Linked DNA regions of Homo sapiens: region 2 is linked to region 1. A link means that fine-mapping ties the variant in region 1 to the expression of a gene that starts in the linked region. Tissue or cell type: whole blood. Region 1 holds a variant in brackets; the other region holds the start of a gene. All regions are shown on one strand. Distances are from middle to middle.

What was found. PIP is the estimated chance that this variant, and not a neighbour inherited with it, causes the effect.
Region 2: it holds the start of CDV3, and the variant in region 1 is fine-mapped to the expression of CDV3 in whole blood (TOPMed, PIP above 0.99).

Annotation. Positions count from the first base shown.
Region 1 is chr3:133,590,562-133,600,384 of GRCh38, forward strand. It overlaps TOPBP1 (DNA topoisomerase II binding protein 1), which reads right to left. Exons shown (of 28, transcript NM_007027.4): 28 at 9,677-9,823. It overlaps LOC124909437 (a long non-coding RNA gene), which reads right to left and starts at 8,516. Exons shown (of 2, transcript XR_007096110.1): 1 at 7,995-8,516; 2 at 7,614-7,901. The variant A/G (reference allele first, on the strand shown) is at 6,633.
Region 2 is chr3:133,567,642-133,577,878 of GRCh38, forward strand. CDV3 (CDV3 homolog) reads left to right here and starts at 6,045. Exons shown (of 5, transcript NM_017548.5): 1 at 6,045-6,643; 2 at 7,398-7,474. The coding sequence starts at 6,404. RefSeq lists enhancers at 5,034-5,273, 5,216-5,717, 5,374-5,543 and silencers at 5,924-6,463, 6,484-6,593, 6,624-7,013.

The DNA of each region.
Region 1 (9,823 bases):
TCACCATGTTGGCCAGGCTGGTCTTGAACTCCTGACCTCGTGTTGCACCTGCCTCGACCTCCCAAAGTGCTGGGATTACAGGCGTGAGCCACCGGGCCTGGCCAGGAGTGTACTTTCTGTTTCAGAAGTGTTTACAGAGTACTCAAGCATAAAAAAGACCGATGAGGATTTAGGCAAACCAAAGACAGTAAAAAAAGAAATAGAAAATTTAAAAAATACAACACGCATGAAAGTGGCTGCAAAGCTGTGACAAATATTTTTGGAAAACTTGAAATACACATTTGTCCTTGTTGCTGTATTAAATTTTGTTACCTTAAACTATGGCAAAGGAATCTAAAATCTTTATATAGACTAAGGATTTAAGGCTTTGTTCGATTAATCTTACAATTCTCAAAAACAGTAATTTTAAATTTCAGGATTTAGTTTGGATTATAGTCCCTCGATTTCTAAATTAGCAAAAGTATATTTCAGTCATTTTGGTAGTGGAGTTTAAATATGTAATGTTAACAATTTACTATTTGATTATTCTTTGTGCTTGATTGAGATCTTTTTTTTTTTTGACAACCTTATTTAAGATAGAACACACACACAAACTCACACTCTATCAGTCTTCCCTGCTTTAATTTCTTCTATAGTTTTAACTTTTTAGATAAAAGTCACTCTTTTCAAAAAGAAAAAAAGAGACAGGGTCTTGTGCTGGAGTGCAGTGGCGCAATCATAGTCCCCTGCAGCCTTTAACTCCTGGGATCAAGGAATCCTCCCGCTTCAGCCTGCTGAGTAGCTGGGATTAATGTGTGTGCTACCAAGCACTATTTTGTTTTTTAAGAGATGGGGTCTTGCTATGTTGCCCAGGCTGTTCTCAAGCTTCCTGGTCTCAAGCAGTCCTCCTCTGCGTCCCAAAGTGCTGGAATGTTTTACAGCCACTTTGGGAGCCACTACACCTGGCCAAAAGTCACCTTTTGAAGTGTACAATTTAAGAATTTCTTATATTCTCAAAGTTATGCAACCATCACCACTCTTAAAATTCTTGAACATTTTCATCACCCCAAAAAGAAATTCTATTGTTATTAGTCATCATTTTCTTCTTTCCTCCCAAATTCCTCAGTCCTAGGCAGCCACTATTGTATTGTCTCTAGTTTCTTTTTTCTGTTTTTTTTTTTTTTTTTTTTTTGAGACAGTCTTGCTGTCACCCAGGCTGGAGTGCAGTGGCACATTGTCAGCTCAATGCACCCTCCGCCTCCCGGATTCAAGTGATTCTCCTGCCTCAGCCTCCCCGAGTAGCTGGGATTACAGGCACCCACCACCACGACTGGCTAATTTTTGAATTTTTAATAGAGATGGGGTTTCACCATATTGGCCAGGCTGGTCTCAAACTCCAGACCTCAGGTGATCCACCCGCTTTGGCCTCCCAAAGTGCTGGGATTACAGCTGCATGAGCCACCGTGCCCGGCCTAGATTTTCTCATTCTGGTCATTTCATATAAACAGGGTTATACAATTTGTTTTTCAGAGACTGGCTTCTACACTTGTTTTTGAGCATGTTTTTGAGGCTTAGCATGTATCAGTGCTTCGTTTTTATTGCTAAACAATATAGGTAATTGTATGGGTATACCACGTTTAAATTGTACATTCATCTGTTGGACATTGGGGTTGTTTCATTATTATGAATGATGTTGCTATGAACTTTCATGTACAAGTTTTTGTATCAACATTTCCAATTCTCTTGGGTATATACTTAGAGATGAAAGGCTGTATCACTTTGAGGAACTGCCAAACTCTTCTAAAGTAGCCTCACCATATTATATATTACTATTCCCACCAGCAGTGTCAGAGGATTCCAGTTTCTCCAATATCCTTGTGATCACTTGTTTCAGATTGGTTCTAGTCTTCCGAGTGGGTGTGAAGTATCTCATTATGGTTTTATTTTGCATTCCTATAATGACTAGTGATGTTGAGCATCTTTAAATGTGCTTACTGGCCATCTGTATGTCTTTGGAAAAATGTGTATTCAAATCCTCTGCCAATTTCTAAATTGGTTTACTTATAATTTTATTGTTGAGTTGCAAGTGTTTTAAATTTCAGGTGCTACTTCTTTGTCAGATACATGAATTGTAAACATTTTCTCCTACCATTTTTCCCTTTCTTAGAAGTGTCTTTTGGAGTACAAAATTTTCAATTTTGATGAAGTCCACCTTTTCTATTCTTTAGTTGCTTGTGCTTGGGTGTTATATCTAAGAAAACATTGCCTAACCCAAGTCATAAAGATTTATGCCTATTTTCTTCTAAGAGTTTTATGTTTTTAGCTCTTTCATTTAGGTCTTTGGTCTATTTTAATTTTTTTTATTGTGACTTAGGGCTCCAGCTTCATTCTTCTGCATGTGACTACCAGTTGCTCAGCACCAAGACTCATAGTTTTTGGGGGATTTTTTGGTGGTTGTTTTTGAGACAGCATCACCCAGGCTGGAGTGCAGTAGTGTGATCATAGTTCACCGCAGCCTTGGCCTGGGCTCAAATGATCCTCCCCGCCTCAGCCTCTCAAGTAGCTGGGACTAAAATGCGTGCCACCACACCCAGCTAACTTTTTTTATTTTTAGTAGAGATGAGGTCTTGCTATGTTGCCCAAGCTAATCTCAAAACTCCTGAGCTCAGGTTATCCTCCTACCTCAGCCTCGCGAAGTGCTGGGATTACAGGTGTGAACCACCATGCCTGGCTTGTAGTTCTTACTCTTTATTTAGCACACTAAACATTTTGGTTGTTTATCTCCCTCTGTTAGAATGTGAAATTGGTCTGGGGTAGGTACACGTAGGTGGAGATGTCAGGAGGTTAAGAGTGTGGGGTAGGAATTTAGGACAGGTCATGCTATGGGTGTCTAGACTGACAAAGGAACAAATGAGGTCACGATTTCAAGTTAGGGAGTGCAAACAAATTAATGGAGGTAGTCAGATCAGAAGGAGAGCCAAGAAGTTAGAAAGTCATATGGACAGGTGTTCTAATAACTAGCATCCTGAAACTGCAGGTTTGTAATGGTTTTAATTCACCAGTTACTACAACTAGGTACTAATGGGGCCTGCAGAATGCAGGCAAGTTATGAATTGCTTCTCCTGGGCTTGAAATAAAGATAATGAATATTATGAGTGATATATTGAGTAAGAAATAATTGCTTATTTTATCTTTTTGACACAGTTTCACTCTGTCACCCAGGCTGGAGTGCAGTGACACGATCCCAGCTCACCACAACCTCTGCCTCCCAGGTTCAAACAATTCTTATGCCTCAGGCTCCCCAGTAGCTGGGATTACAGGCGCATGCCACCACGCCCGGCTAATTTTTTTTTTTTTTTTTTGTATTAGTGGAGACAGGGTTTCCCCATGTTGTCCAGGCTGGTCTTGAACTTCTGACCTCAAGTAATCTGCCCACCTCGGCCTCCCAAATTGCTGGGATTACAGGTGTGAGCCATCACACCTGGCCTTAGAAATAATTGCTTTAAATAATCTTATTTGTATTATCTAAAATAGGAATTATGTTCACATCAGGAATTTAGGATATACATAAAAGTAATCATTAAGGCAGTTCAATTCTTTTGAATTTGCAGCCCAAGTGGGAACTAGAATTCTAAATAATTGGATATAGTAATACAGACGATGGGTAGGATTTAAGTCATCCACTTTAAAAGTCTTTTTAATCCCTCAACCTAACTGTTCAGGGATCCAGTCAAAGCATGCCCCAAGAAACCTCTGTAAAATGGTTCATCTCCAAATATGATGGAGAGTAGCACCCAGCCTTCGCAATTTTAATCATAAGAAGTGGAGCAACTCTGTAAGATTATGTCCATGGTTCTCAAACTGCTGCATTTTGGAATAACCTGGGAATCATTAAAAAAAAAAAAAAAAAAAAAAAACTCGCTGGGTGCGGTGGCTCACGCCTGTAATCCCTGCACTTTAGGAGGCCGAGGTGGGCGGATCACCTGAGGTCAGGAGTTCAAGACCAGCCTGGCCAACACAGTGAAACCCCATCTCTACTAAAAATACAAAAATTAGCCGGGCACGGTGGTGGACGCCTGTAGTCCCAGCTACTCAGGAGGCTGAGGCAGGAGAATCACTCGAACCCGGGAGGCGGAGCTTGCAGTGAGCCGAGATGGTACCATTGCACTCCAGCCTGGGCTACAGATCAAGACTCCGTCTCAAAAAAAAAAAAAGTGATGCCCGACTCCCACATCCAGACATTCTGAATTAATTAGTATGGAGTGTGACCCGAGCAGAGGAATGTTTTTTCAAGTCCCATAGTTCTAATGTGCAGCAAAATCTGGGAACCACTGGGTTATGTCAAAAAATGATAAATTATTTCCCTAGTAGGCAGTTGGAAGACAACCATAGGGCTAGCTCAAGCAGGAAATCCCTTAAATTGCATGCTTAGACCAGAAATGATTATCATATTCCTAAATGCATTTTTGGATACTGTTAAATGAGGGAAAGTGGATACTGAAGTTGGAGGGAAAGACTTGTCAACTGAAATAGTAAATTTCTTTGATTTTTTACAAAACTACACATTTTTGTAGTTCAGTAGTTATCAGTATATAAAGACCATTTTTAATATCTTATCTGTCATTTCTTAGATAACTGCCTCATCATCAATGTAACTTCTGTAGCTACTCGTTATCCTTCTCCAACAATACTTCCATGATGTTTGACTTGTCTTTTGACAGCAGATCTGACCATTCCTGAGTTTACTCACTGTAAATGTTAATCTGCCTTACACTACCCCTGGCCACTTTAAATTTGCCCTTTCATTATGTTGCTCAGTTATAGCACCTCTGGGTTTTAAGAGTTTCTTTAGAATTCTGCTATTCTTCCTGGTGACTATGAATTCAACCATAATTAACCTTACCAGAGATAAGCTTTGGCAGCCGCAGAATCATATAGCTCATCTATTTAAGAATCAGAACCTCAGGCCAAGTGTAGCTTGTACCACCTACACACTCTGGGTCTGTGACTCACCTTACTCACCAGTTCCTGCCTTTTAAAGATCATGTGGGTTATACTTAAGCATCTTTTCATAATGAGGTGTGGGCACAGACTGGAATCTCTTAGGTTTGTCTTTGGTTTTATTATAAATTGCTGGGACTACTATGGCTTCCTTATTGGATTTCTCTGATTTTACAGTTCAAATGTATGTCTTTAATTAGAACCTGAATTAAACAGGGAAGTCAGGGACTCCCAACCTCAGTGGCACCATGGTAATGGGAGTGAAGAGGAGGTTGCAAGCTCCCATTATATTCTTTTGTTCTGTCCTGACATCCTCTTCTTTTTTTAAAACCTTAGCTCCAGCTGGCAAAAGTGTTAAATCACTTACTGGAATTTTAAAAAATTGTATAGTTTTTAACCTTGAGCCAGGCAACAGGTAACAAATGTTGACTCGTTTAACCCTGAAAGCCCCTTAAAGAGGGGAAAATAGGTTCTGAAAGGTTAAATAGCTTGCTGGAGTCATAGCTAGTAATGAAAGAGCCAGGACTCCAACCCAGGTGTTTTGGCTCCAGCATGTTTTTAACCATGAGGCTTTGCTTCCACTCTTCACCTTAGATTTAAGTAAGGGTAGAGAAGGAACATGATAACCAAATGCTCCTTCGAAATGACTTGAAAATGCTGTTTGCCCTGTTCCCATCCCAAGGTCAGCAGGGATGCATTAGAGCCTGACTTCTTCAGTCTCCCCTCAAAGCAGCAGAAAGTTCTTTTTTTTTTTTTTCTGAGACGGAGTCTCCCTCTGTCGCCCAGGCTGGAGTGCAGTGGCACAATCTCGGCTCACTGCAACCGCCACCTCCCGGGTTCAAGCGATTCTCCTGTCTCAGCCTCCTGAGTAGCTGGGACTACAGACGCCCACCACCACTCCCAGCTAATTTTTGTATTTTTCTCCCAGAGATGAGAGTTCACCACGTTGGCCAGGCTGGTCTCGAACTCCTGACCTCGGCCTCGGCCTCCCAAAGTGCTAGGATTACAGGTGTGAGCCACCACGCCCAGCCAAAACTTGATAATTTTCATTGCAGATTTCCAAATGTTAAACAAGCATGAGATGGCTCTGCTTAATGCTACTACTTGTCATGCCAGACTGCTATTGACTCTAGTGGGGATGGTACCACGTGAGGGAGGCTGAAGAAGAGATGTGGAGCCAGTGAATGAGACATAGGGTTTATTGTGGACTTACATTACACAACAGTCCAGGAGCAGTGGGCTGGACAGGAAAATTGCTCCTTTTTTTTTTTTTTTTTTTTTTTTTTTTTTTTTTTTGAGACGGAGTCTCGCTCTGTCGCCCAGGCGGGAGTGCAGTGGCGCGATCTCGGCTCAGTGCAAGCTCTGCCTCCCAGGTTCACACCATTCTCCTGCCTCAGCCTCCCCAGCAGCTGGGACTACAGGTGCACGCCGCCACACCCAGCTAATTTTTGGGTGTGTGTATTCTTAGTAGAGACGGGGTTTCACCGTGTTAGCCAGGATGGTCTCGATCTCCTGACCTCGTGATCCGCCCGCCTCGGCCTCCCAAAGTGCTGGGACTACAGGCATGAGCCACCGCACCCGGCCAAAAATTGCTACTGTTTTTTAAAAGCATGCAGTCTAACATGTCATTTTCACATAGCAACCTCTACCTA[A/G]CAACTTCCACTTAACCCAATACAAAGGGCCACCATCCCCTATACAGCCTGCATTCCAAGGAATGGGGCAGGGGTATGGACATCCGTCATTGATGATAAGGAGTCAGTCTCTGGACTGGCCACTCCTGGATTCCTTAACTTGGAACTCCAAACATACATTCTTCTTAGACCACAGGGTCACTTCCCAGGGTATGCCTGAGTTGTTGTCAAGTATGTCTGCCATAGACTGCTACTCAGGATGGTAGAAAAGGAGCTGAGTGGCAGGGCGCGGTGGCTCACACCTGTAATCCCAGCACTTTGAGAGGCTGAGGCGGGCAGATCACTTGAGGTCAGAAGTTTGAGACCAGCCTGGCCAACATGGCGAAACCCCATCTCTACAAAAATAGAAAAGTTAGCTGGGCGTGGTGGCACACGTCTGTAATCCCAGCTACTCAGGAGGCTGAGGCAGGAGCATGGCTTGAACCCAGGAGGCAGAGGTTGCAGTGAGCTGAGATCATGCCACTGTACTCCAGCCTGGGCAACAAGAGCGAGGCTCCGTCTCAAAAGAAAAAAAAAATTGAGCTGGGTGCCTTGCTTGTTGACAGATCTAGATTTTAAAATCTTTTTAGGGATAGAAAATAAGGAACAGTCAACTATGGCCCACTGCTTATTTTTGCATGGCCTCAAGCTAGTAATGATTTTTATGTCTTGAAAGGTCAGAAGGAAACCAAGCCCTGATACAAAGCAGCCTGTATTAAAGCACTTCTAGGTGAGAGGTGTAAATGTGAAATAATAGGTTTGCATTAGAGCAGTGGTTTGTGACTTTTGGGTGGAAAGTCACAGATCCAAACTCTAGAATTATGAACTCTACCCTAAAAATGCTCATATACAAAACAGCCTGTTCCATTCCCAGGCATCTCAGGCCCCAAAGTAAGAACCTTATTACTGTTAATATTGTTACTGGTCTGCTCAGGCTGCCACAAAGGAACATCACAAGCTGAGTGGCTTAAACAGAAATTTATTTTCTCACAGTTCTGGAGATTGGAAATCCAAAATCCAGGAGACGGCCAGGGTTGGTATCTGGTGAGACATTTCTTCCTGGTGTGTAAACAGATAGCTGCCCTCCCCGTGTCCTCACAGGGCTTTTCCTCCGTGCCGGCAAACTCCTGGTGTGCCTCCCTCTTCTTACCAGGACACTAGTCCTGGTGGGTTAGGGACTCATTCTTATGACCTCATTTAATCCCCTTATAAAGGCTCTGTCTACAGTCACATAGCAGGTTAGGCTTTAACCTGTGAATTTTAGGGGGACAAGCTCAGTCCTTAACAGTGTAAATACTAAATCTGAGTATAATTGAGTACTGTATTTACAGTAAGGATTCCTACCTCTTCAAGTGCTAAGGGACCATGTGTTCCAGGTGGTTTGTTGCTGAATCCTAGGCACAGGTTGAGGATTCCTACCTGTTGAATTAACGAATGTTGGTGAGATCAGACTAATGCACAGGAAAATTCGTGGAGGGATATAAGGTGATAATTTAAATATCACAGATTAAAATATCGTAGCCATTCAGAAAAGAAACTCATACTAATCTAATCAAGGCAAGTTCTGCCCCCTCCCCTTTTTAAACAAGAAGACTACCTATGCTTGGAATTATTTGTATATAAGAGGATATTGTTGCTGGCATTAGGACATTTACAGATTAACAGCCAAAGCCAGAGTTCAAGTGGCTTATACAGAGTATGGGCAGATGCTGGAAAGTTAGGAGGAGAAACTGAGACCTGGAGCCTTAAATGGTAAACTGTGTGTCTAAGTTTGAACTGGAAAACCATTCATAATTTTGGCAGAAAAGAAAGTGGTATATTAGGTAATTTAAAAAGTAACTATTTCAAAGAATTTTTTTTTTTTTTTTTTTTGAGATGGAGTCTCACTCTGTCACCCAGGCTAGAGTGCAGTGGTGCGATCTCGGCTCACTGCAACCTCCACCTCCTGGTTCAAGTGATTCTCCTGCCTCAGCCTCCCATGTAGCTGGGATTACAGGCACGTGCCGGCACACCTGGCTAATTTTGGTATTTTTAGTAGAGATGGAGTTTCGTCATGTTGGCCAGGCTGGTCTCGAACTCCTGACCTAAAGTAATCTGCCCACCTTGGCCTCCCAAAGTGCTGGGATTACAAGTGTGAGCCACTGTGCCTGGCCTATTTCAAAGGATTCTGAGTAATAAAATTCAGGGAAACGTACTACAATCTACAAAATGATTCAGCTAAAATAAAATAGCTCTGATAAAGACAGGCCCATGTGGTTTTTGTTTGGTGGGAGGGGGACAGTTTACATCATAATGCTACCTATTTCTCTGTGTAGAATTTGTATTGTCCTAAGCTGTGAACTAGCTCAAAGCTGAAAACCCTGTAGGACCAATCCTCTAGCAGCAGGGATACCCTCAACTCCATTTTGAAGAAAATCTGATGAAAATTTAAGGGATTTTGTGTCCAAGTTGAGCACTCTCTCCTTCACTGTTTGAATCTGCCTTTCAAAAAGTCATTTGGAATTGAACGGTTTACATCAAAATTACATTCCTAACGGATTCTAGTTTGTCCTTAAAATGAAATTAGGTGTATTTATAGAGAATTCTGGTAACGCATGTAGTATTAGGTGTTTAGGTTTAGCATAATAAAGGCTAATGCAATACAGAGTTCCAATAACAGTATGTTTTAATCTAATAGGGCAATATTCTAAATAACAAATATCAGAAATGTTAAGCAATTCATTTATTTTTTTTGAGACAGGGTCTCATTCTGTCACCCAGGCTGGAGTTGCAGTGGCATGATTTCAGCTCACTGCAACCTCTGCCTCCTGAGTTCAAGTAATTCTCATGCCTCAGCCTCCCAAGTAGCTGGGACTACAAGCATCAAACAGCATGCCCGGCTAATTTTTTGCTATTTTTTGCAGAGATGGGGTTTCGCCATGTTGTCCAGGCTGGTCTTGAACTTCTGGGTTCAAGCAGTCCACCCACCTTGGCCTCCCAAAGTGGTGGGATTACAAGCATGAGCCACCGTGCCTGGCCTGCAATTCTTTTTTTTTTTTTTTTTGAGATGGAGTTTCGCTCTTGTTGCCCAGGCTGGAGTGCAATGGCGCGATCTCAGCTCACCGCAACCTCCGCCTCCCGGGTTCAAGCGATTCTCCTGCCTCAGCCTCCTGAGTAGCTGGGATTACAGGCAT
Region 2 (10,237 bases), 23 kb before region 1:
ACCTGTAATCCCAGCACTTTGGGAGGCCGAGGCGGGCAGATCACAAGGTCAGGAGATCGAAATCACTGACGAACATGGTGAAACGCTATCTCTGCTAAAAATACAAAAAATTAGCTGGGCGTGGTGGCGCGTGCCTGTAGTCCCAGCTTCTTGGGAGGCTGAGGCGGGAGGATCGCTCAAACCCAGGAGGCAGAGGTTGCAGTGAACCGAGATCGCGTCACTGCACTGCAGCCTGGTGACAGAGCAAGACTCTGTAAAAAAAAATAATAATAAATAACCACAGACCCCCCACCGTGTAATTATAAATCAAGATACATGCCATCATCATCATCACCATCATCATCCCTCACACTAATTGTAACATTAATTGGTTTTTCTATTTGCCAAGCACTAGAGCTGAGTGGTCTTAAATTCATGTCCACATTTCATCCTCACAACTCCAGGAGGCAGTTGTGCTTATCATCCATACTTTACAGGTGAAAAAACCTGTGATGCAGAGAAGTTAAGTGACTTGCTAGGAGGAGGCAGAGCTGGTACTCGAACCTAGATTTGACTCTAGAAAGCATGCGCTTGACCACCAAGTAAAAAGCAAGGTCCCCGAGAGAAAGTATAGGATTTGCCTTCCACCCAGCACGCAGAAGGTTTCCCTGCACTCCCTGCACTCTGACCCTCTCTCTGCTTTTTGTCAGCCTAAAGAGGATGACAATACCATTGACCTAGTGACCTAGTAACCAGGAATACGGAGGCTCTGAGTCAGAAGCAGAAAATGCCAGACAATCTCACATGTAGCTGTTGGATCATGAAGTAAGATCAAGAATGGAGCTAGGGTCAGGAACAGAATAATCGTGTCTTGCCCACGTAATTATACCCCTTGCACTCTGTGATCAAAACGATTGAGTCAGAATGTCTTGCTTTGTGCCAGAGTCGTTTGACTGGCTCCCAAAGTGGCCACCCAGAGTAGCTTTTCCTTGGCGAATTTGCCACAGAGCTGAACCTGGGTCATAGTCATATCAGTGTCCTGTCAGGGTTCATCTCCCTGAAAAAGCCTGACTCCCAGCAATCCAACTCATAAGAGGCCAAACTATATAACCACATACATACCAATGTATTCATTAACAGTGTTAGTCTTTCAGTAACTGGAATGTTCCTCTCCCAACTAGGGCACCCTTTTCCCAATATCAGCAGTCTCAGAGAGTCAAGTTAGTCATCAACAGGCTGGTTGGTGAGTGTATCCCAAGAGTTAAGGAAAGCTGACCTTTTGAGGGCTATTTCAGCCAAATCAGGGTGCGGTCTACTGAATCATCTCCACCTTACAGCAGGGCACGTCTATGTGAAAACAAATTTCACACTGCTCTTTCTTGGACAGTGGTGGGTAATAAGTGCCAACTTCTGGCCTCATGGCTTTATCCTATTTCTTTTTCCTTCCTCTTTTCTACTCTCCAGGCTCTTCCCTCATCCTTCAGTTCACACATTCTCCATACAATAAAGTTGATTCGGTTGCTGATCATTCAATTGTCATCACATTGCAGCCCTTCCCTCACCGAGACACTCAAGGAGGTCACCTTGATGGATAGGTTGGTTGTTCCCAAGCTTTTCATTTATTTACAGAACTTTTTGGTTTATTTTCTAATATGTTAGGTTTAACCTTTTGAAATGATTGTTTTTGGCAGGTCAAAAACAGTCAAATAGCAGCAATTTTATGTGGTTCAACAATCAGCAAACCAGACCCATTGGGGGTGGGGTTAATGAGTCTGACTCCCTTCTCAAGCCATGGTGGTGGGTGTATGTGTGTGTGTGTGTGTCTGTGTCTAGGAGAAGGGGGGTGTATGGCAGCCCTTTTCTCTTTCTGGAAATAAGCTCTCCTGGATAGTTGCTGTTGTCTGGGGCCTCCTCTTGCTCTCCATGTATCCTCCAACTAGGACCCTAATGTCAAAAATGAGCTAAGGAGGAACTTGAGGTTGAGGGAGAAGGTTGAATTATTTGTTATGTGTGGCAGAGTTAGCCTATGCTCATAAGCCAACAAGGAAACACTTTTAGAGTCCATGATTTGTGCAGTCCTCTGTTAATGTGGAAAACTGGAGATTAATGGAGACATTTTTCATTTTACAAACATCAGTTAAATGCTTGTGTGATATAGGCTATATGCTCAATGCCATTCCTGCCTTCAAGAGTTTTCAATGTGCTTTTGTAGGTGTTCCTGTGTGTCTCCTTCTAGTTACCAGCTTAGTGTACAATAAGCTCTGTGAAGGCAGGGCTTATCTCTCCTTTAACTCCTAACATAGGGCCCGGCATATAGTAGGTGCTCATTAAATACATGTTTTATATACTTGAGTGAATGAATGAGAGTGGTTAAATAACAAACCAATCATGCGAATACCAGGAAGGCATCAACGATCATACCAAATGAAAAGACTCTGGGCCTCTGAAGTTTAGGAAATCAAGCTGCCTGTAGAGAATAAGAAAAGACTCCCAGAAGAGATGACCTGTAAGTAGTTGCTCCCCAGTTGAAAAGGGGACAGTTCAGGCAGTGGCATAGTTGGCCTTACAGATGTTAGAGAGGAAACCAGAAATGAAAAGAAGAATTCTAGCCACCCATTTCCTGGTGAACACTTTGGCCAGCATGAGCTGCATTCCTTTGAGCTGAGCATGAGTGGAATTTCCAGCCTAGGTAGCAGAATGGATCTTGGATCAAATAGCTCAGCAGAAAAGAACTCAGAAACAATGGGGCTGGGCTCAACTGCCCTTTGCCAGCTCTTGAGCTCATGGAATATTGGAACTCAGCAGGCCTTGTTGAGGGAGATATATGATGTCCTTCGGATTGCACCACTTCAGAGGACCCAGAGGGAAACTGCCATGTTCAGACAGCATTAGGAACCTTGGAAGATGTGCAGAAATACCTGGGAATAGTCTGCATTACTATACAAGTTTTCCATCTGGCAAGTACAAGTGAAAGTCTGTTTGCTTTAAGTATGCAGACGGTCCAAACACATTGGACAGCAGAGGGGAAGACACCTCTGTCAAGAGAGAGCTGGAGGAGCCGGGCACAGCGGCTCCTACTTGTGATCCCAGCTACTCAGGAGGCCAAGGCAGCAGGATCAATTGAGCCCAGGAGTTCCAGACCAGCCTGGGCAACATAGCAAGATCCCTTTCTCTAAAAATGTAAAAAAAAAAAAAAAAAAATTCAGCTGTACATGATGGCACCTGCCTGTAGTCCCAGCTACTCTGGAGGCTGAAGCCAGAGGATTGCTTGAGCCCCGCCTCTTAAAAAGAAAAAAAGAGAGAGAGGGCAGAAGGATGCTTCAAAGATGAGGGGGTGTCTGGTAACGATGATAATGATAGCATGATTCAGGGCACTGTGCAACCAATCTGGAGAAGGGTGGTAGGGGAGGTTTAAAAGGAGCAACTGATGGGAACAGATGCTGTCAATTTTAGGGCAGGTGATTCAAAGAGGAAGGGACCAGCTTCACAGAGGAGAGAATTACTACAAACAATGACACAACCACAAAGACACTGGTCTCTCTACTGGCCTGACCTGAATTTCTTACACATGATCAAGTTCTGGGATCATGCCATCAATCACACTGAAAAATGTAGTGGGAAATTCTGCAGCGTCAGCCCTCAACTACTGTTCCTTCTGTGTATTTTCTCAAGTCATTAATTCTTTCAAGACAATGATGAATTGATAAGGACTTAAGAAAGATATAAATAACTGAAACTTATTTATATCTAGATCTTCTCTTCTAGATTATAAGGGAATTGAATGCAGGAATCACAAATTACTCACTTTTGAATAAAGCACTTTGCCCGAAATATAGCAAAATAAGTGCTTCATAGATGAGGAAAGAAAGAGAGGGAGAGGGCCGGGCATGGTGGCTCACACCTGTAATTCCAGCACTTTGGGAGGCTGAGGTGGGTGGATCACGAGGGTCAGGAGTTTGAGACCAGCCTGGCCAACATGGTGAAACCCCGTCTCTACTAAAAATACAAAAATTAGCTGGGTGTGGTGGCGGGTGCCTGTAATCCCAGCTACTCAGGAGGCTAAGGCAGGAGAATCGCTTGATCCTGGGAGGCAGAGGTTGCAGCGAGCTGACATGCCATTGCACTCCAGCCTGGTGACAAGAGCAAGACTTTGCCTCAAAAAATAAGTAAGTAAATAAATAAATAAATAAATGAAAGAGAGGGAGGGAGGAAGGAAGAAAGAGGGGGGAGGAAGAAAAGAAGGAAAGAAAAGAGGAAGGGAGAAAAAAGAAGGAAAGAAAAAAAAGAAAGAAAATAAATTTGATTAGCGATGGTAAGGGAGGGTGATGGTGATGGGCAGTACTGAACCTGGCCTGCATCACAGGAAGATATATGTTGTCATAGAAGGAAGTCACCTTGGGAGCTGTTCATGTTTGGGGAATAGTATATGTATAAGCTCAAGCTACTTGCTGGCCAAGGCTAGGTCCTTGATTTCTTTTGACATTCAGAAGTTAGACTTTTTTTTTTTTTTTGAGACGGAGTTTCACTGTTGTTGCCCAGGCTGGATTGCAATGAGGCGATCTCGGCTTACTGCAACCTCCGCACCCCCGGGTTCAAGCAATTCTCCAGCCTCAACCTGTAGCTGGGATTACAGGCGTTAGCCACTACGCCCGGCTAATTTTCGTGTTTTTAGTAGAGACGGGGTTTCATTATTTTGGTGAGGCTGGTCTCGAACTCCTGACCTCAGGTGATGCGCCTGCCTCGGCCTCCTGAAGTGCTGGGATTACAGGCGTGAGCCACCGCGCCCAGCCAGAAGTTAATTCTTTAATAGCAGTGTAAGTAGGGGGTAGGAAAAGAGAAACTTTAATGGGGTAACTGTAAAGGAAAAGACGAAGAAGTCTCTCCATTTACTGGCTGGATTCTATCTACCCCATATGGCTACCAACATTTGTCTGAGTCATTTCCTCAATGGTTGTGACAGCTCCCTCTTCTGCTTTTAGAAGGAGGAAGTAGAAAGTTTAAGAGCTTACTTTAGACCACCTTTTGCATATAGAATTCATTTCATTTTCAAGGCCCCAAGGGTATTTAAATGGGCTTTAAACCCATTTAAACCTGGCTTTCGCCTGGGCATTTTGGTCTCCACCCCTATGATAAGACAGTCCCCTCCTTTTATCAGGGATAGAAGCTAAGGATAAACTGTATCATCATCTAGACTCAAGTCAGGGCGTTAAGCAATGTGCTGAGCAGCTAATAATGTTGACTCTCTTCCCTCCATCCCCCTATCTTGTAAGAAATAGTATACCCACTTTACAGATTAGGGACTTGACGATAGGATTTATTGAACTTGACCTTGGTAAACATAATCCAGAGGGTGGAGTTCAGACAAAATCCCTTTCTACCTACCAACCAGCCTATGAAAGATCTTTTAGTAAATGGGACCTAAACTTCAGGCTCACTGCTCCTCTCACTTTCACAATCAACCGGTAAAGAAGAAAAGTAATGGTTGCCACTCCAGAGGGGGTGGAAGTACAGAAGCGATCAGAGGAGAGGAACAATCTTTAACACAGTTGGCTTAACGCAGTGCCTGTCCGTTTCGCGACAGTTCAAACGACTACTATGGGGCCACGGTTTGTTCTGGGCCAGGAAACACACGTGCATCCTGCGCATGCGTCCAAAAGGAACCCACTGCCCCTCCTGCTGGACCTCTTTAGCCAAGTCATCAACCAGCCCTCAACATGCCCGCCCTCAAGACTAAACCCTCGGCCAATCGGGAAACCGGAGTCGCCCGGCACGTCACTTATTTTGCATATGCCCTCCTCTCCCCGCCCCCATGCTTGGACTCCGCCCCGTCTGGGTCAGGGATTGTCACCTAAGAGCTTCGTCCTGGCACCTGATTGGCTCTCTTTCCAGCTCCGCCTCCATCTCCTCCCGCCGCCCGCCCCTTGGCGATCCCACAGCGGCAGGCAGAGCAAAATACGCAGGCGCAGGCGCTTCCTCTCTCTTCTAGCGGCCCGCCCTCCCTCCTCCCTCTCCCTCCCCTCCCCACTCCCTTCCCCTCCTCTCCAGGCCTGCGCGCGCGCCTCTTCCTCCGGCACGCGCCGCTGCTAGCCGAGCACTCTCGCCAGAACCTCTGGCTCGCGCGTGCCTTTTCCCCTCAGGTTGTGGGGAGAGCGGAATCCTGCTCCGCCGTCGCAGCAGCAGCGGCAGCCCCGGCAGCCTCGGGCGACAGCGGCGGCGCGCGAGCCCCCGGGCGGACCGTACCACCGCTCGCCAGCACGCAGGGGGAGCCGCCCGTCTCGCCGCGCACGCCTCGGCGACCCCGCGGGGCTGAGGCGTCGCCGCGCCCGGCAGCGTGAGCGCAGAGCCGGCCTCGACCCCGAGCTCGGAGCCCCGCGGGCCGCGCCCGCCGCCGGCCCCACCCATCCGGGTCGAGGAGGCCGAGGCCATGGCTGAGACGGAGGAGCGGAGCCTGGACAACTTCTTTGCCAAGAGGGACAAGAAGAAGAAGAAGGAGCGGAGCAACCGGGCGGCGAGTGCCGCGGGCGCAGCGGGCAGCGCCGGCGGAAGCAGTGGAGCCGCGGGTGCGGCGGGCGGCGGGGCGGGCGCGGGGACCCGGCCGGGTGACGGCGGGACCGCCAGCGCGGGGGCTGCGGGCCCAGGGGCCGCCACCAAGGCTGTGACGAAGGTGAGGGGCCGGGAGGCCGGCACTCGGGGCCCGGGCCGCGCGCCGGCGCCCCATGTGCCCGCCCCCGCCTGCCGGGGAAGCGTCCGGGAGGGGCCGCGGAGGCCGGGCGGACGGGCGCGGGCCGCCACGTGACGCAGGCTCTCCACCTCGGGCTGGGCTCGCCAGGGCCGGGACCCCTTCCGATATCCGCGGTGGAGCCGCCCTTCCCACCCCGCGTCGCTCGGCGTTAGCCAAGGCCCGGGCGGCGCCACCCTCCGGGGGCACTAGGTCTGGGGCCGCAGTGCCCAGCACAGAGCAGCGTTTATCGGGTGACGTCTAGGCTGAGTAATTCCGTGTGCTGACCTCAGCCCAGTAGTTTGAGCTGAATTTTCGCTTTCAGCAGCCGCATTTGTAGCAGCTCTTTTGTGATGACTTAGTCTCTAAGCCCGTGAAAGAAAAAGAAAACTCTCGGTGGCAAGGTTGAAGTAGAAATGTAGTTGTGAAATTCCTATTGACTTCTTCCTTCGGCTTTTCTTAGTTGCTTAAAGTAACAGCTCCCATGCAGGAACCCAGCGGAAGTATAGTGTTAGCCTACGAGCATGTTTGTCCTCCATTTAGCCTAGTTTGCCCCAGAACGAAGCAAGGGCTTTGACCAGAAGACAAGTACATACTTAGTTTAGGTTCCAGCCACTTGATCCACTTTTCGTAGTGTGTTATTTGCTTAGTTATATGTCTACAAATAGCTTTAATTGATCAAATGGCGTTTGTTTTACAGGACGAAGATGAATGGAAAGAATTGGAGCAAAAAGAGGTTGATTACAGCGGCCTCAGGGTTCAGGCAATGCAAATAAGGTATAGTCTGGTTACAAATGTGTTTAGATAACCTTTGGGATAGATATTGGATACAAGTTAGGTTTTCCTTTGGCCCCAAAGCAGCATCATAGTAGCCTTGTGCTCTAGATATGCTTATTAGGACTCAAATGGGTTCTGTCTACTCTTTCTCACTCCATGGAGGCAGCCCTTCCGTGTGCTCATGAAATTAGCTGCTGACTCTAAAATCCTGTGAGAGCTTGCCTACTTCCAGTTCTGGTTAGGACTTTTCATTTGAGACAGCTAAAGTGGATTTTGTCGCTTCAAAATTTTTACTTTTAACATCGGTGATTGTACTTAGTTTTGGTTTCAAAAGTAATGTGGATGTTTTTCACATCCTCTCCAATAAGCAAGTGAATATATGTTTTTGTAATTGAAGTATATCATACTTACAGAGAGATAGAGGTTTTATGTGTTCACACAGTGCAACCAACCTGTGCAATAAGCACCAGGTCAAGAAACTGAGTATTACTGATACAGAACAAGGTTCCCCTCCTAACACATACTCACTGCATTCACCTTCAACATAACCACTATTCTAACACCATAATTTTTTCTAAAACTTCATAGGAATGGAATTATATTTGTAAACATGTTATTTTTTAAAGTTCAAAAAAATAGTAATTTTTAAAAATTGGGTAGTTTAGAAGATTTGAAATTAACATTTTGTCAAGTCCAGTCTATGGCAGTCAACTTTAAGGTTGATGTTAAGTAAGTGCTATATTTTGGAGGGTTCATAAAGTAGGAAAAAACAAATGAAGATATGGTTCTGCTGTAAGATGAAAAAATCCTTTGCTCCCGGTTTAAAGAAATAAAGGATCTTGATAAACTGTCTCCAGTTTGAAGGTTGCATTTTATAGGCAATGCCAGTGAGTGCGAGGCACAGTGGAGGAAATACTTTCCTTAACTGAAAACTGTCTTTTGACTTCTCTGGATGTTAGTATCTATAGCTTTAGATAACTTACTCAAAAAGCAGGGTTAATATTATTGACATTTGTTGAACACCTACCACAGCTAGGCATTAATGTCCTACTGTGAAAACATCATTTTGTGAGCTTAACCAAAGTGAAACCCCCAGATTGATAATGGGAAACTTTCAGGAACGATGGCTTCTCCACTCTTGAGATTTCTTTGTAGTGGTGTTGAGTAGAAGTGATTAGACTTGAGTTTGATTCCCAACCACTTGTTGGCTTCCTTAATGTGTCTTTCTCTTTTCTGTCTCCTGGGGCTTGACCTGTAAATAATGGGGAGGAGGGAATGTGAGGTTCTTACCATTTGGTGTTGTGGAACTGCCTGTGTGTGTGGCTCCGGTTCTGTTGTAAAGTTTGGCTCTTCTTAAGTCTTTTCTTTCCTAAGTGACTGCAGGTTCTTGAAAACGTGAGTGACTGGAAGAATAGTGTTTGGCCATGTTGAACTTGGCAAAATAGCACTTTTCTGAAGATAAAATTTTGGTTTCAAGTTCACTGAGGATTAGAAATTGATTTTGTTAAACTATGGAGATTATTTAAACAGAACCTGTGTTTTTCTGTTACTGACTATAAATTACATGTTCATCTTCAGGGTTATTTTGATCTTGATCTATTTTGGTTACTTTTGAGATAGTGAAAAGTGTCTTAAATAACTTACATACTTCACCCTTGCCAGGGATATAAGTAAGTATCAGCTAGTACAAGCATTTAAGTTCTGTTCAACCTGAAGGTAGACTAGCTTTTTTTTTTTTTTTTTTTTTTTGAGACGAAGTTTCCCTCTTGTTGCCCAGGCTGGAGTGCAGTGGCAAAATCTCGGCTCACTGCAACCTCCGCCTTCTGGTTTCAAGCGATTCTTCTGCCTCAGCCTCCCGAGTAGCTGGGATTACAGGCGCCCGCCACCACACCTGGCTAATTCTTGTATTTTTAGTAGAGACGGAGTTTCATCATGTTGGTCAGGCTGGTTTTGAACTCCTGACCTCGTGATCCGCCCGCCTCAGCCTCCCAAAGTGCTGGGATTACAGGTGTGAGCCACAGCACCCGGCCTAGACTAGCTTTTATATTGTTTTTTTTGTTTTCTTAGCATCTAGTCATTGGCCCTAAGTGGCCATCCTAGTAGAGGTATTCCACTAACCTGCAACACTGAGAAACACTCCTTCCCATATGTTCTTCACTCAGATCCACCAGTCTCTGCTACATGTGCTTTATCTTTTTCTATTTCTCGGTATACTGAGAGCTGCAGATGTCACATTCAGTCTTTTTTTCTTTTTTTTTTTTTGAGACAGAGTTTCGCTCTTGTTGCACAGGCTGGAGTGCAATGGTGCGATCTCAGCTCACCGCAACCTCAGCCTCCCGGGTTCAAGCGATTCTCCTGCCTCAGCCTTCCGAGTAGCTGGGATTACAGGCATGTGTCACCACGCCTGGCTAATTTTGTGTTTTTAGTAGAGACGGGGTTTCTCCATGTTGTTCAGGCTGGTCTCAAACTCCCGACCTCGGGTGATCCACCCACCTCGGCCTTCCAAAGTGCTGGGATCACAGGCATGAGCCTCTGAGCCCAGCCAGATGTCACATACAATCTTAAAGTTCTTGACCCTGGTCCTTATAGTAGTTAGCATATTAGTTCTTTACCTGTACATTTGAAAGGGGAAATTTTTCATTAGCAGCAAACGTATTATATATTAAGATCCTATTTCACATTTACCAACCAGCTCAAGATTTAAGTACCAAGGTACTTAATGTGCCCAGTTTTGTGTCTGAATTAACAGATCTTATTCAAGGT